Linked DNA regions of Homo sapiens. The protein of the gene in region 1 interacts with the protein of each later gene in a pairwise test. Each region holds a gene or a part of one and is shown on either strand. Other genes may lie near its edges.

Evidence for each region.
Region 2: the proteins of TMEM14C (region 1) and PLIN3 interact in binary tests that used the Homo sapiens proteins (3 or more experiments, as listed by UniProt).

The regions. Positions count from the first base shown.
Region 1 is NC_000006.12:10,719,162-10,726,092, forward strand, and holds the start of TMEM14C (transmembrane protein 14C), read left to right. Parts: upstream 1-3,908; 5' UTR 3,909-4,080; intron 4,081-5,394; exon of another isoform or gene 5,395-5,408; 5' UTR 5,409-5,452; coding exon 5,453-5,472; intron 5,473-5,799; coding exon 5,800-5,876; intron 5,877-6,745; coding exon 6,746-6,847; intron 6,848-6,931. UniProt on the Homo sapiens protein: Required for normal heme biosynthesis.
Region 2 is NC_000019.10:4,843,667-4,850,692, reverse strand, and holds part of PLIN3 (perilipin-3), read left to right. Parts: intron 1-2,802; coding exon 2,803-3,002; intron 3,003-5,899; coding exon 5,900-6,025; intron 6,026-7,026. UniProt on the Homo sapiens protein: Structural component of lipid droplets, which is required for the formation and maintenance of lipid storage droplets. Required for the transport of mannose 6-phosphate receptors (MPR) from endosomes to the trans-Golgi network.

The sequences.
Region 1 (6,931 bases):
GGACTTTGTGGGTTCGTCTTGCTGACTTCAAGAATAAAGCCACAGACCCTCATGATTGAATGTTACAACTGTTAAAGATGGTGGGTCCAAAGTTTGTTCCTTCCGACATTCAGACATTATCTAGTTTCTTCCTACTGGTGGGTTCACGGTCTCACTGATTTCAGGAATGAAGCTGCAGGCCTTTGCAGTGAGTGTTACACCTCTTAGAGGTGGCACATCTGCAGTTACTTGTTCTTTCTGGTGGGTTTGTGCTCTCTGCTAGCCTCAGCAATAAAACCACCAACCTCTGCAGTCAGTGCTACAGTTCATAAAGGTGGCACATCCAGTTTTTCATCTGCTTTCAGTGGGTTTGTGGTCTCACTAGCTTCAGAAGCAAAACTGTAGCCTTATCACGGTGAGTATTAAAACTCATAAACATTGCACGGATCTAAAGAACTATCAGCACCAACATTTATTGCAAAAAGCAAAAGAACAAAGCTCTGTCAGCCCAAGAAAACACCCAAGCACGTTTCCCCTACTGGCTGTGGGTGGCCAGTTTTTATTCCCTAATCTGGCCACACCCACATCCAGCTGATTGGTCCATTTTACAGAGTGCCGATTGGTGCATTTGCAAACCTTTAGCTAGACACAGAGTGCTGATTGGTGCGTTTACAATCCTTTGGCTAGATACAAAAGTTCTCCAAGTCCTGACCAGATTAGCTAGACACAGAGCGCTGATTGGTGCGTTTACAAACCTTTAGCTAGACAAAAAACTGCTGACTGGTGCATTTACAATCCTTTAGCTAGACACAAAAGTTTTCCAAGTCCCCACCCGTCCCAGAAGCCCAGCGGGCTTCACCTCTCGCTGGGAGTTGGGTGGGACTTTTTGGCAACTAGCCTGGGCACTCCGGGAGCTCCTCCCACACAACCAAGAGGAAAAGAGGAGGAGAGAGACAGAGACCCGCCATCGTGGCCAACGACCCCGCCAAGAGGGAACGGCGGTCCACGCACTGGACCCAGCCTCCGATCAAGCCCAGCAGGGGCCGGCAGGTCGCGCCAAGTGCGGGGCCCACCGAGCCTGCGCCCACCTGGAACCCGGGGCAGCGCAGCCCCAGTCCCCGCCTGCGCCTCTCCCTCCACGCCTCCCCACGAGCAGATGGAGCCGGCTCCGGTCTCGGCCAGCCCCAGGGAGGGCCCCGCACAGCGCAGCGGCGGGCTGAAGGGCTCCTCGAGCCTGGCCGATGCTAAGGAGGCACCGAGAGCAAGCGAAGGCTGCTAGTGAGAGGTGACGACGTGCTGGCAGTCCTCAGAGCCCTCGCTCTCGGCGCCTCCTCTTCCTGGGCTCCCACTTTGGAGGCACTTGAGCCCTTTAGCCCACCGCTGCACTGTGGGAACCCCTTTCTGGGCTGGCCAAGGCCAGAGCTGGCTCCCTCAGCTTGCAGGGAGGTGTGGAGGAAGAGGCGCGAGCGGAAACCAGGGCTGCGCGCGGCGCTTCCGCGCCAGTTGGAGTTCCGGGTGGGCGTGGGCTTGGCGGGCCCCGCACTCGGAGCAGCCGGCCGGCCGGCCCTGGGCAATGAGGGGCTTGGCACCCAGGCCAGCGGCTGCAGAGGGTGTACTGGGTCCCCCAGCAGTGCCAGCCCACCGGCGCTGCGTTGGATTTCTCGCGGGGCCTTAGCTGCCTTCCGACGGGGCAGGGCTCGGAACCTGCAGCCCGCCATGCCTGAGCCTCCCACCACCTCCGTGGGCTCCTGTAGGGCCCGAGCCTCCCTGATGAGCACCACCCCCTGCTCCACAGGGCCCAGTCCCATCAACCACCCAAGAGCTGAGAAGTGTGGGCGCAGGGCGCAGGACTGGAAGGCAGCTCCACCTGCAGCCCTGGTGTGGGATCCACTGGGTGAAGCCAGCTGGGTTAAGTCTGGTGGGGAGGTGGAGAACCTTTATGTTTAGCTCAGGGATTGTAAATACACCAATTGGCACTCTATATCTAGCTCAAGGTTTGTAAACACACCAATCAGCCCCCTGTGTCTGGCTCAGGGTTTGTGAATGCACCAATGGACACTGTATCTAGCTACTCTGGTGGGGACCGTGGAGAACCTTTATGTCTAGCTTAGGGATTGTAAATACACCAATCGGCACTCTGTATCTAGCTCAAGGTTTGTAAACACACCAGTCAGCACCGTGTGTCTAGCTCAGGGTTTGTGAATGCACCAATCCACACTCTGTATCTAGCTACTCTGGCAGGACCTTGGAGAACCTTTGTGTGGACACTCTATAGCTAATCTGGTGGGGACGTGGAGAACTTTTGTATCTAGCTCAGGGATTGTAAACGCACCAATCAGCACCCTGTCAAAACAGACCACTCGGCTCTACCAATCAGCAGGATGTGGGTGGGGCCAGATAAGAGAATAAAAGCAGGCTGCCCAAGCCAGTAGTTGTAACGCACTTGGGTTTTCTTCTATGTGGAGGAGGCTTTGTTCTTTCTCTTTTTCTTTTTGCAACAAATATTGCTGTTGCTCGGTGCTTAGGTCCTGTGTTGTCTTTACAAGTGGTAACGCTCACTGCGAAGATTTGCAGTTTTGCTCCCAAAGCTACGAAGACCACGATCCCACCGGAAAGAACAAACATATTCCAGACGCACTGCCTTAAGAGCTTTAACATTCGTTATAGAAGTCTGTAGCTTTGCTCCTTGAGCCAGTCCAAAGCTAGGGAGACCACGATCCCACCGGGAAGAACAAACAATTCCAGACACACTGCCTTAAGAGCTTTAACATCCACCACAGAGGTCTGTAGCTTTGCTCGTTGAGCCAGTGAGACAGCAAACCCACCAGCAGAAAAACTCCCTGAATACTTCTAAACATCGGAAGAAAAACTCTAGAGACACTGCTTTTAAGAACTAACACTCATCGCGAGGGTCTGCAGCTTTCTCAAGTCAGACCAAGAAGCCATCAATTTTGAACACACTGGCACGTTGTGATCTCTCACTATCTCCACTAAAAATAACAAAAATTAGCCTGGCAGCCAGGGGTGGTGGTACAGGCCTATAATCCCAGCTACTCAGGCAGCTGAGGCAGGAGAATCAGTTGAACATGGGAGTCAGAGGTAGTGGTGAGACAAGATCATACGCTGCACTCCAGCCTGGGCAATAGAGTGAGACTCCACATAAAAAAAAAAAAAACTTGGCTGGAATTCGCTTTATTCACTGACAATTATATTGGTCAGATTTGTGTATGTTGATACTTGTAGGGGATGGAGAGGGAGAAGTCAACGATGACAGCAAATTTTAGTGTAGAGCAACTAAGAGAATGGTGGTGCAGGAAACGGAATAGGAGTGACTCCAAGTGGGAATGGAGATAATATGCTGTGGATATTTTGGGTCCACAGAGCTGGGTAAAAATCAGGTTTAACTTACTCCCCATCCCCCTTTAAGATGCTTCTCAAGCAGCCTCACTCCCTAAAACAAACGGATATTTGGCTTTGAGCCACATTATTCTGCAGCCCCCGTATTTTCTTCCAGGCAGGCCCTTCCTGGTGTAGACAAGATCGGGCTTGAGTGACACTCCTCCCTGATGGCCTGCATCTGGTTTATACCCTGTAACTTGTTCCTCTATTAATGGGGTCCTTCAAAATCCAGCCTCAGATTCCCTGGTCCCGCAGCGGTGGCCTCACCTCTGGCGTGGCCGAGCTCACGTGGTCCGGCTTGTGCAAGTCCCAGGTCCAACTCCGGGTCTCCTGCTTTTGGCCACTCAGGATTGGACCTGGGACTGATACTGGTCGGCCCTGCAGGCGCTGCGGACAGGGGAAGCACAGAGATTCCCCGCCGCGTTCCCTGGACTCAGGAGCTCGCCGCGATGCCCCGCCCCACTCTCCACCCGCTGAATGCAGGGCGCATGCTGCTACTTGGCGGCTCAAGCCCCGCCCGCACCGTCCCCATTCTCTGACCGCCCCTCTCCCGGTACACTGCGCAGGCACAACAGAGCCGCTCCCCTCTCCTCGCCCCGCCACCGGGACGGAGAGCGCCCGCCGCTGCATTTCCGGCGACACCTCGCAGTCATTCCTGCGGCTTGCGCGCCCTTGTAGACAGCCGGGGCCTTCGTGAGACCGGTGCGAGTATTTGGGGATTATTCTTATTTTCTGCCACTTTTAACTTTTAGGGATTATTTAGGAGTTTCACGGCCGTCTGCTTTTCGTCCCCCCGATTCAGCGGGCCTTCAGGCCGTGTGGTCGGTGCTTTTCTCGTTGGGTATTTTCTGCTTTTAAAAGAAGTTGTGGATGCGCGGAGCCCCTGGGCTCCTGAGGCAAAGGCTTACCCATGTAGCATAGTGTTGCCTCGTTTCTTGGTGATTTTCTTGCTCCATCTCTTTAAAAGCCTCCCTTACTCGGTGCCGTCTCGAGTTAAGAACTGTGGGCAAGATCCCAAGCCCGCTGCCCTTCCCTGTTTTATGGAAACTTAATTCTTTTTTTTTTTTTTTTTGTCCTTGAGGGAGGGACTTGCTCTGTCGCCCATGCTTGAGTGCAGTTGCCTGAATATGTCTCATTGCAGCCTCTGCCTCCTGGGCTCAAGCCATCCTCCCACTTCAGCCTCCCAAGTAGCTGGGATTTACAGTCGCATATCACCATGCGCGATTAATTTTTTTATATTTTTTAGTAGACAATGGGTTTCACTATGTTGGCCAGGCTGGTCTTGAACTCCTAACCCCAGGTGATCCGCCCGCCTCGGCCTCCTAAAGTACTGGGATGACAGGCGTCAGCCACTGCGCTTGGCCTAATTCTTTAAACAGAATAAACGGGGTATGCATTGCTTTCATCTTTTGGCTCACTGGACACAGGATACTTTCTGTAAGAAAATAGAAGCTGTTTTTCCAAGGGTGTAGTGTCACATGTGAATATGACCACTGTTTCCGTATATTTTATCCTCTCCTACTACTGCCCTCCTAACAAGAACTGTGAGTTGGACGCAGAAGTTTCTAAAAAAGTTGAGCTTTGAAATTGGCTGTTGCAGCAGGGATGAAAAGCAACACCCCTACCTCCCCTCAAAAGAGACATTAAAGTAGTTGGATTAAGGGCACGGGAGTATTTGCTTTTGAATTTAGTGATAACATGGGTAGCTGATGAAATGACTAACACATTCCCTGATTTTAGAGCTGGTCAGTGGATCTTGCTGAGTTTCCCGTGGGCCTATGTGATTAAAACTGAGGTTTTCATGACAATGGTCAGCATCTGTTCAGGGTTTACTAGGTGCTAAGCACCTTTACATGTGACATCCATTGAATGCTCACTACAGCCCCAGGAAATCGGTACCAGTGTTATCCTCATGGTACAGTGAAGAATACTGAGACTTAGGTTGCGTAGCTTGCAGGTTGGACACACTTCTTTCTGACTGCTGGAGAGCTGTGCTTTTAACTACCTCTGATCCAGCTTGTTTTCTGCAGGTGCAGGCCTGGGGTAGTCTCCTGTCTGGACAGAGAAGAGAAAAATGCAGGACACTGGCTCAGTGTGAGTGCAGTAAATGGGTATGGAGTAGCCAGGAGCTTCTGGAAACCAGAGTTCCTTTCCTTAGCTGAAAAGAACCTTAAGAGTAGACTGCCTGGGATGGCATGGGGGATGGGAGGATCACTGGACCTGTGGGCCAGAAACTTGGGTTTGAGTCCCAGCTCTGGCTTTGCTGAGTTGTGTGACTCTCAGAAAGTCATCCAACCTCTGTGGTCCTTATTTTCAGTGATAGGACCTGTGGGGAATGATTACCTTTTAGTCCCATCCTATGACAGTATGGTTTGTTTTCAAAGCCAGGTTAGCACTGACTTCTCCCTCTTGTGTTTTCAGAGTGCCTTTGCATTGGTTTGGCTTTGGCTACGCAGCACTGGTTGCTTCTGGTGGGATCATTGGCTATGTAAAAGCAGGTAGGGTTTTGTTGTTACTTAGCCTCTTAACATCTTCACGTTGTCCCAGTGAAATGTGAATGCCCGTGTCCCTGAGAAGCAATCTCATTTGAGTCAGGTTTGCTGTGGGTCCCCAAGCTGGAGTGCAGGCTTCCTTGTCAGTCTTGCAGCTCCTGCCCTTGCCCTTTGGTTATCTGGTGAAGCTGAGCCAGGCCTCTTTTGGAATTACTTGTTTTTGCCTCTTTATCTACAGATAGGCAGGGGCGGTTGTAGTTTGTTATTATCGTTGACTGCCATTCATCAGCCACGACCCCCAAGTGCCATCTCTGGGCTCAAGTAGGAGGAAACCTCTGGCCTACACAGACTGGTATTTTGAACTCTCCTCGTTAGGCCAGGCAGGGGTGTGTCAGTGGCTGTGCTTGTGTTTGCCCCCTAGTCCTTGCCTGCATTCCCACCCCAACCCCTGCACCAGAATTCTTCTTCTCCAGGTCTTTGTATTTTTTTAATTGACTGGCCTTATCTCCTTCTCCTTTTGTGATTTGCTGGAGGTCCTGCCTGTACACAATTCCAGTCCTTCATGGTTGATCAGGCCTGATTAGAAAGAAGGCCTAGCCACAGTTCCATCTAAGGAGGGAAGATGGCCTTCTTTCCTTTCCTTAGATGGAAGTGCCCTGCCTATTAGAGGAGAGAAAAATGGGGTGGGAAGACCCTGACTTCTCTGAGAAGATAGCACACTCTCTGTAACGTCTTCCTGCTTGAGTCCACCTTGGCTATGAGCTGTGTTGAGAGTTCTCTGTGCTGTCCTCCTTTGTAGGGCAGCGGTCTGGGGGATTCCGTTAGTGAAATAAGTGCCTGACATTACAATGCAAGCTGTGTTTGCTTCCCTCTAGGCAGCGTGCCGTCCCTGGCTGCAGGGCTGCTCTTTGGCAGTCTAGCCGGCCTGGGTGCTTACCAGCTGTCTCAGGATCCAAGGAACGTTTGGGTTTTCCTAGGTATGTCTGCTTTGGCGTCTCCTTAGGGCAGCTATGTATCCAGAATACTCTTTTCCAAAAGACCCTGGTTTGGTGGGATGGGGT
Region 2 (7,026 bases), on another chromosome or scaffold:
GAGGCCAAGGCCGGGCGGATCACAGGTTCAGGAGATCGAGACCATCCTGGCTAACACAGTGAAACCCCATCTCTACTAAAAAAAAAAAAAAAAAAAAAAAAAAAATTAGCCGGGCGTGGTGGCGGGTGCCTGTAGTCCCAGCTACTCGGGAGACTGAGGCAGGAGAATGGCATGAACCTGGGAGGCGGAGCTTGCAGTGAGCCGAGATCATGCCACTCCACTCCAGCCTGGGCAATAGAGCTAGACGCCGTCTCAAAAAAATAATAATAATAAAATAAACATTAGCCAGGTGCGGTGGCAGGCGTCTGTAATCCCAGCTACTTGGGAGGCAGAGGTTGCAGTGAGCCAAGATTGGGCCGCTGCACTCCAGCCTGGGCGACAGAGTGAGACTCCATCTCAAAAAAAAAAAAGCATGGGTACAGTAGGAGCAGGATTAAATAAATACATGCAGCTGGGCGCAGTGGCTCATGGCTGTAATCCCAGTACTTTGGGAGGCTGAGGCGGGTGGAGGTTGAGGTCGGGAGTTCGAGACAAGCCTGACCAACATAAAGAAACCCTATCTCTACTAAAAATACAAAATTAGCCAGGCATGGTGGCGCATCCCTGTAATCCCAGCTAACTCGGGAGGCTGAGGCAAGAGAATGGCTTGAATCTGGGAGGCAGAGCTTGTGGTGAGCCAAGACTGCGCCATTGCACTCCAGCCCAGGCAACAAGAGTGAAACTCCATCTCAAAAAAAATAAAGGCCAGGTGTGGTGACTCATGCCTGTAATCCCAGCACTTTCGGAGGCTGAGGCAGCTGGATCACATGGTCAGGAGTTTGAGACCAGCCTGGCCAACATGGTGAAACCCCATCTCTACTAAAAATACAAAAATTAGCCAAGCATGGTGGCACATTCCTGTAATCCCAGCTACTCAGGAGGCTAAGGCAGGAGAATCACTTGAACCCGGGAGGCGGAGGTTGCAGTGAGCCGAGATCATGCCATTGCACTCCAGCCTGGGCAACAGAGTGAGACTCTGTCTCAAAAAAATAAATAAATAAATAAATAAGTAAATAAATACATGCATATACACATATGAACCTACGAACATGGGATGAGGCCAGGCGTGGTGGCTCACACCTGTCATCCCAGCACTTTGGTGGGAGGATTAGTTAAGCCCAGTAGTTCCAGACCAGCCTGGACAACATAGACCCCATCTCTACAAAAAATTTAAAAATTAGCTGGGTGTGCTAGTGCACGCCTGTAGTCCCAGTTGCTATTTGGGAGCTGAGACAGGAGGATCACTTGAGCCTGGGAGTTCAAGGCTACAGTGAGCTATGATTGCACCGCTGCACTCCAGCCTGGGCAACAGAGCGAGACTGTACTTCAAAATATAAAAACCGACAAAACAAACAGATCTAAACATAGAAAAGGTACAGGAAGCCAGGTGCAATGGCTCACACCTGTAAACCTAGCACTTTGGGAGTCTGAGGCGAGCAGATTGCTTGAGTCCAGGATTTCAAGACCAGCCTGGGCAACATAGTGAGACCCCATTCCTACAAAAAGTACAAAAATTAGCCAGGTGTCTTGCCGTAGTCCCAGCTTTATGTAGTCCCAGCTACTCGGGAGGCCAAGGTTGAAGGATAGCTTGAAGCTGGGAGGTTGAGCCTGCAGTAAGCTGAGGTCGTGCCACTGTACTCCAGCCTGGGCAACAGACCGAGACCCTGTCTAAAAAAAAGAAGAAAAAGTACAGGAAAAATACGGTATATATGGTATTATAATCTTATGGGACCACTGTAGTATATGCAGTCCATTGTTGGCTGAAATGTCATTATTCTCTTTTTTTTTTGAGACGGAGTCTCACTCTCACCCAGGCTGGAGTGCAGTGGTGTGATCTTGGCTCACTGCAGCCTCCACCTCCCGGGTTCAAGCGATTCTCCTGCCTCAGCCTCCTAAGTAGCTGAGATTACAGGCTAGTGCCATCACGCCTGGCTAATTTTTGTATTTTTAGTAGAGATGGGGTAGTGCCATGTTGGCCAGGCTAGTCTTGAACTCCTGACCTCAAGTGATCTGCCCGCCTTGGCCTCCCAAAGGGCTGGCATTACTGGCATGAGCCACTGCACCCGGCCTACGGTATTATAATCTTATGGGACCTCTGTAGTATATGTGATGTATTGCTGGCTGGAATGCTGTTATTCTCTGCAGGACTGCATAATGAACATTCAGGCCTATATTCACAGGTTGTCCAAGGCAGGTCTGGCCTGCAGGCCATAGCTTGAGACCCTCCTGCTAGTCTAAGGTCTCTGATTCCTGTGAGGTTTAATTTTCCTTATCCCCGTTTTGCAGATAGGGAAAACCAAGGCAGAATCCTTTGCTCCCAGGCCTTCGAGGTTTATAAGAAGTAGAACTGGGTTATAAACTGGACAGCATGGCCAGGTGTGGTGGCTCACGCCTATAATCACAGCACTTTTGGAGGCCAGTTCGGATGAATCACTGGAGATCAGGAGTTCGAGACCAGCCTGGCCAACATGGTGAAACCCCGTCTCTACTAAAAATACAAAAATTAGCTGGGCATGGTGGCGGGCGCCTGTAATCTCAGTTACTCGGGAGGCTGAGGCAGGATAATCACTTGAACCCGGGAGGCAGAGGTTGCAGTGAGCCGAGATGACACCACTGCACTCCAACCTGGGCGACAGAGCGAGACTCCATCTCTAAATAAATAAATAAATAAACTGGACAGTGTGATTCTTGGGACTGTCTGCATGGGACGAGCCCAGCTGTGTGTTCTGGTCTTCACAGAGACCCTTCTCCTTTTCCTTGCAGCCCGCATCGCCACATCCCTGGATGGCTTTGACGTCGCGTCCGTGCAGCAGCAGCGGCAGGAACAGAGCTACTTCGTACGTCTGGGCTCCCTGTCGGAGAGGCTGCGGCAGCACGCCTATGAGCACTCGCTGGGCAAGCTTCGAGCCACCAAGCAGAGGGCACAGGAGGCTCTGCTGCAGCTGTCGCAGGTCCTAAGCCTGGTGAGGTTCCAGGGGGTCGGGGCCCTGAGCCAGCAGCCTTCACCCCGCAGCAGACACCCACCCAGAGCTCAGTGGCTTATTGCTCACCCCTCTGCAGGCTGGCAGGGCCATTCCCGCTTGCTCCTGGCACTGTATCTGGTTGTACACTCATTTGCTCAGGATGCTGCCACAAACCACACTGTCTGGGGCCGGGCACAGTGGCTCACACCTCTTTGTGTGAGTCCCTCAAGTGCTTTGGGAGCCCAAGGCAGGAGGATCGCATGAGTCCAGGGGTTTGAGACCCACCTGGGCAATATAGCAAGACCCCATCTCTACAAAAAATAATTTAAAACAATTAGCTGGCTGTGGTGGTGCGTGCCTGTAATCTCAGCTACTTGGGAGGCTGAGGTGGGACGATTGCTTGAGCCCAGGAGTTGGAGGCTGCAGTGAGCTATGATTGTGCCACTGCACTGCAGCCTAGTCAACAGAGCAAGACCCCATCTCAAAAAAAAAAAAAAAATCGTGGCCAGGTGCGGTGGCTCATGCCTGTAATCCCAGCACTTTGGGAGGCTGAGGCGGGTGGATCACGAGGTCAGGAGTTCAAGACCAGCCTGGCCAACATGGTGAAACCCCATCTCTACTAAAAATACAAAAATTAGCCAGGTACAATGGCAGGCACCTGTAATCCCAGCTACTCAGGAGGCTGAGGCAGGAGAATCGCTTGAACCCGGGCGGCAGAGATTGCAGTGAGCCGAGATCATGCTACTGCTCTCCAGCCTGGGTGACAAGAGTGAGACTCCATCTCAAAAAAAAAAAAAAAAAATTCGTACTGTCTGGGAAATGTAAACAACAGATATTTATTTTCTCACATTTCTGGAGGCTGGAAGTCCAAGATCAGAGTGTCCTTCTGGGGCCTCTCTCCTTGACTCGTAGACAGCCATCTTCTCTCTGTGTATTCACGTGGTCGTCCCTTCCCTCTGTGTATGTCTGTGTCCTAATCTCTTTTTTTTCTTTGAACGGAGTCTCGCTCTGTTGCCCAGGCGGGAGTGTAGTGGTGCAATCTCAGATCACTGCAACCTCCACTTCCCGGGTTCAAGTGATTCTTGGGCCTCCACGTCCCGAGTAGCTGGGATCACAGGCACTTGCCACCATGCCTGGCTAATTTTTGTATTTTTAGTAGAGATGGGGTTTCACTATGTTGGCCGGGCTGGTCTCAAACTCCTGACCTCAAGTGATCCACCCACCTCAGCCTCCCAAAGTGCTGGGATTACAGACACGAGCCACCACGCACAGCTCTAATCTCCTTATTGAAGGAGACCAGCCCTTTATGGATTGGAGCCCACCCTAATGGATAGCTTCATTTACCTTTATGACGATTTTTTTTTTTTTTTTTCCAGAGACAGGGGCTCACTCTGTTGCCCAGGCTGGAGTGGATGATCATGGCTCACTGCAGCCTCTTAGGTGCACCCATCTTGGAGCATATGTCTGCCATCATTCCTCTTTATTTATTTTTCTTTTCTTTTTGTGGCGCGATCTCAGCTCACTGCAAGCTCCGCCTCCTGGGTTCATGCCATTCTCCTGCCTCAGCCTTCTGGTAGCTGGGACTACAGGCGCCGGCCACCATGCCTGGCTAATTTTCTTTTCTATTTTTAGTAGAGATGGGGTTTCACAGTGTTAGCCAGGATGGTCTTGATCTCCTGACCTCTTGATCCGCCCGCCTCGGCCTCCCAAAGTGCTGGAATTACAGGCGTGAGCCACCGCGCCCGGCCTTTTTTTTTTTTTTTTTGAGACGGAGTCTCGCTCTGTCACCCAGGCTGGAGTGCAGTGGCATGCAGTCTCTGCTCACTGCAAGCTCTGCCTCCTTGGTTCACACCATTCTCTTGCCTCAGCCTCCCGAGTAGCTGGGACTACAGGCGCCCACCACCACGCTGGGCTAATTTTTTGTATTTTTAGTAGAGATGGGGTTTCACCGTGTTAGCCAGGATGGTCTCGATCTCCTCACCTCGTGATCCACCCGCCTCGGCCTCCCAAAGTGCTGGGATTACAGGTGTGAGCCACTGCGCTCGGCCGACTATTTTTCTTTTCTCTTAAACTTTATGTAATATGTAGAGATGAGATGTCACTGTGTTGCCTATGCTGTTCTGGAGCTACTGAGCTCAACTGATCCAACCCCCTTGGCCTCCCAAAGCGCTGGGATTGCAGAAGTCAGCCTGCTTCGTTCCTTTGGAAGGCTGAGTCATATTTCATTACAAGCACTTTTTTTTGTTTTTTGTTTTTTGTTGTTTTGAGATAGAGTCTGGCTCTGTCACCCAGGCTGGAGTGCAGTGGCGCAATCTCAGCTCACTGCAACCTCCGCCTCCCAGGTTCAAGCGATTCTCGTGCCTCAGCCTCCTGAGTAGCTGGGACTACAGATGTGCACCACCACACCTGGCTAATTTTTGTATTTTTAGTAGAGACGGGGTTTCACCATGTTGGTTAGGCTGGTCTCGAACTCCTGAACTCAGGTGATCCACCCACCTCAACCTCCCAAAGTGCTGGGATTACAGGTGTGAGCCACCATGCCCAGCCTACAAGCACTTTTTAAGCCTTTGCTGGTTCCATCTGCTCATGTCCCATTGGCCAAAGCCAGCCACGTGTCCAGGCTCCCTTGCAAGCGCAGGAGAAATTGACACAATGGGAAGAGCTACAGGGGATGTGCAGCCCTTCTTTGCACCAACCACACAGAGCCTGAGTATGTCAATGATTAAACCAAAGGCCCCAGAGCTCACCGTAGCCAGGAAACCCTTCCTCCCTCCCTCCCTTTCTCTTTTCTAGACTGTCATGTAAGTCAGATGCTGGAAGGATTCCTTGGGTTCCTTCTGGAATCCCGTCTCTCCCAGGGGAGCCTCCTTCCCTCACTTCTCTCTCCCCTGCCCCAGATGGAAACTGTCAAGCAAGGCGTTGATCAGAAGCTGGTGGAAGGCCAGGAGAAGCTGCACCAGATGTGGCTCAGCTGGAACCAGAAGCAGCTCCAGGGCCCCGAGAAGGAGCCGCCCAAGCCAGAGGTACCCATGAGGGGACTGGGGGGTGGCCTAGGGTACTTGGAGTCCCGATGCCACTCTCTACACCTCTGCTTCATGGGCCTACCTGCTTCGAATGATTTCCCTAGCCTCACCTGCTTTTGGAAGCTAATGACACCTCCTTCAGGAAGCCTGCCTTGATTTCTCCTCTTGGGCATGCATAGGTATGGCTTCTGTTTTTTGTTTTGAGATGGAGTGTTGCTCTGTCACCCAGGCTGGAGTACAATGGCATGATCTTGGCTCACTGCAACCTCCACCTCCTGGGTTCGAGTGATTCTCCTGCCTCAGCCTCCCTAGTAGCTGGGATTACAGGCGCTCACCACCACGCCTGGCTAATTTTTTTGTATTTTTAGTAGAGACAGGGTTTCACCATGTTGGCCAGGCTGGTCTTGAACTCCTGACCTCAAGTGATCCGCCCTGCCCAGCCTCCCAAAGTGTTGGGATTACAAGCGTGAGCTACTGAGCCCGGCCCCTAGCAGCAACTTCTGACTAGTATTCTCCGGCCCCCTCCACTCTATCTCAAGCCTTGGCCTCTTGTGTTCTCTAATGGGTCTCGCTGCCTGTCCCACCACCCACTTAAGCTCCCCAGGGGCAAAGGAAGTTTGCAGTGAGCCGAGATCGCACCACTGCACTCCAGCCTGGGCAACAGAAGGAGATTCTGTCTCAAAAAACAGAAAATGTCCTGAAATTAGATGAAGGTAGTATTTGCCCAACCTTGTGAATGTATTAAAAACCAATGAATCGTACACTTCAAAGGGCGAGTTTTAGGGTGTGTGGATTATATATCAATTTTTGAAATAGTTGTTTATTTATCTTTGAGACAGGGTCTCACTCTGTTGCCCTGGCTGGAGTGCAGTGATGCCATCACAGGTCACTGTGGCCTCGCCATTGCAGGCTCAGGCAATCCTCTCGCCTCAGCCTCCCAAGTAGCTGGGAACACAGGCGTGTGCCACGATGCCTGGCTAATTTTTTTTTTAATTTTTAGT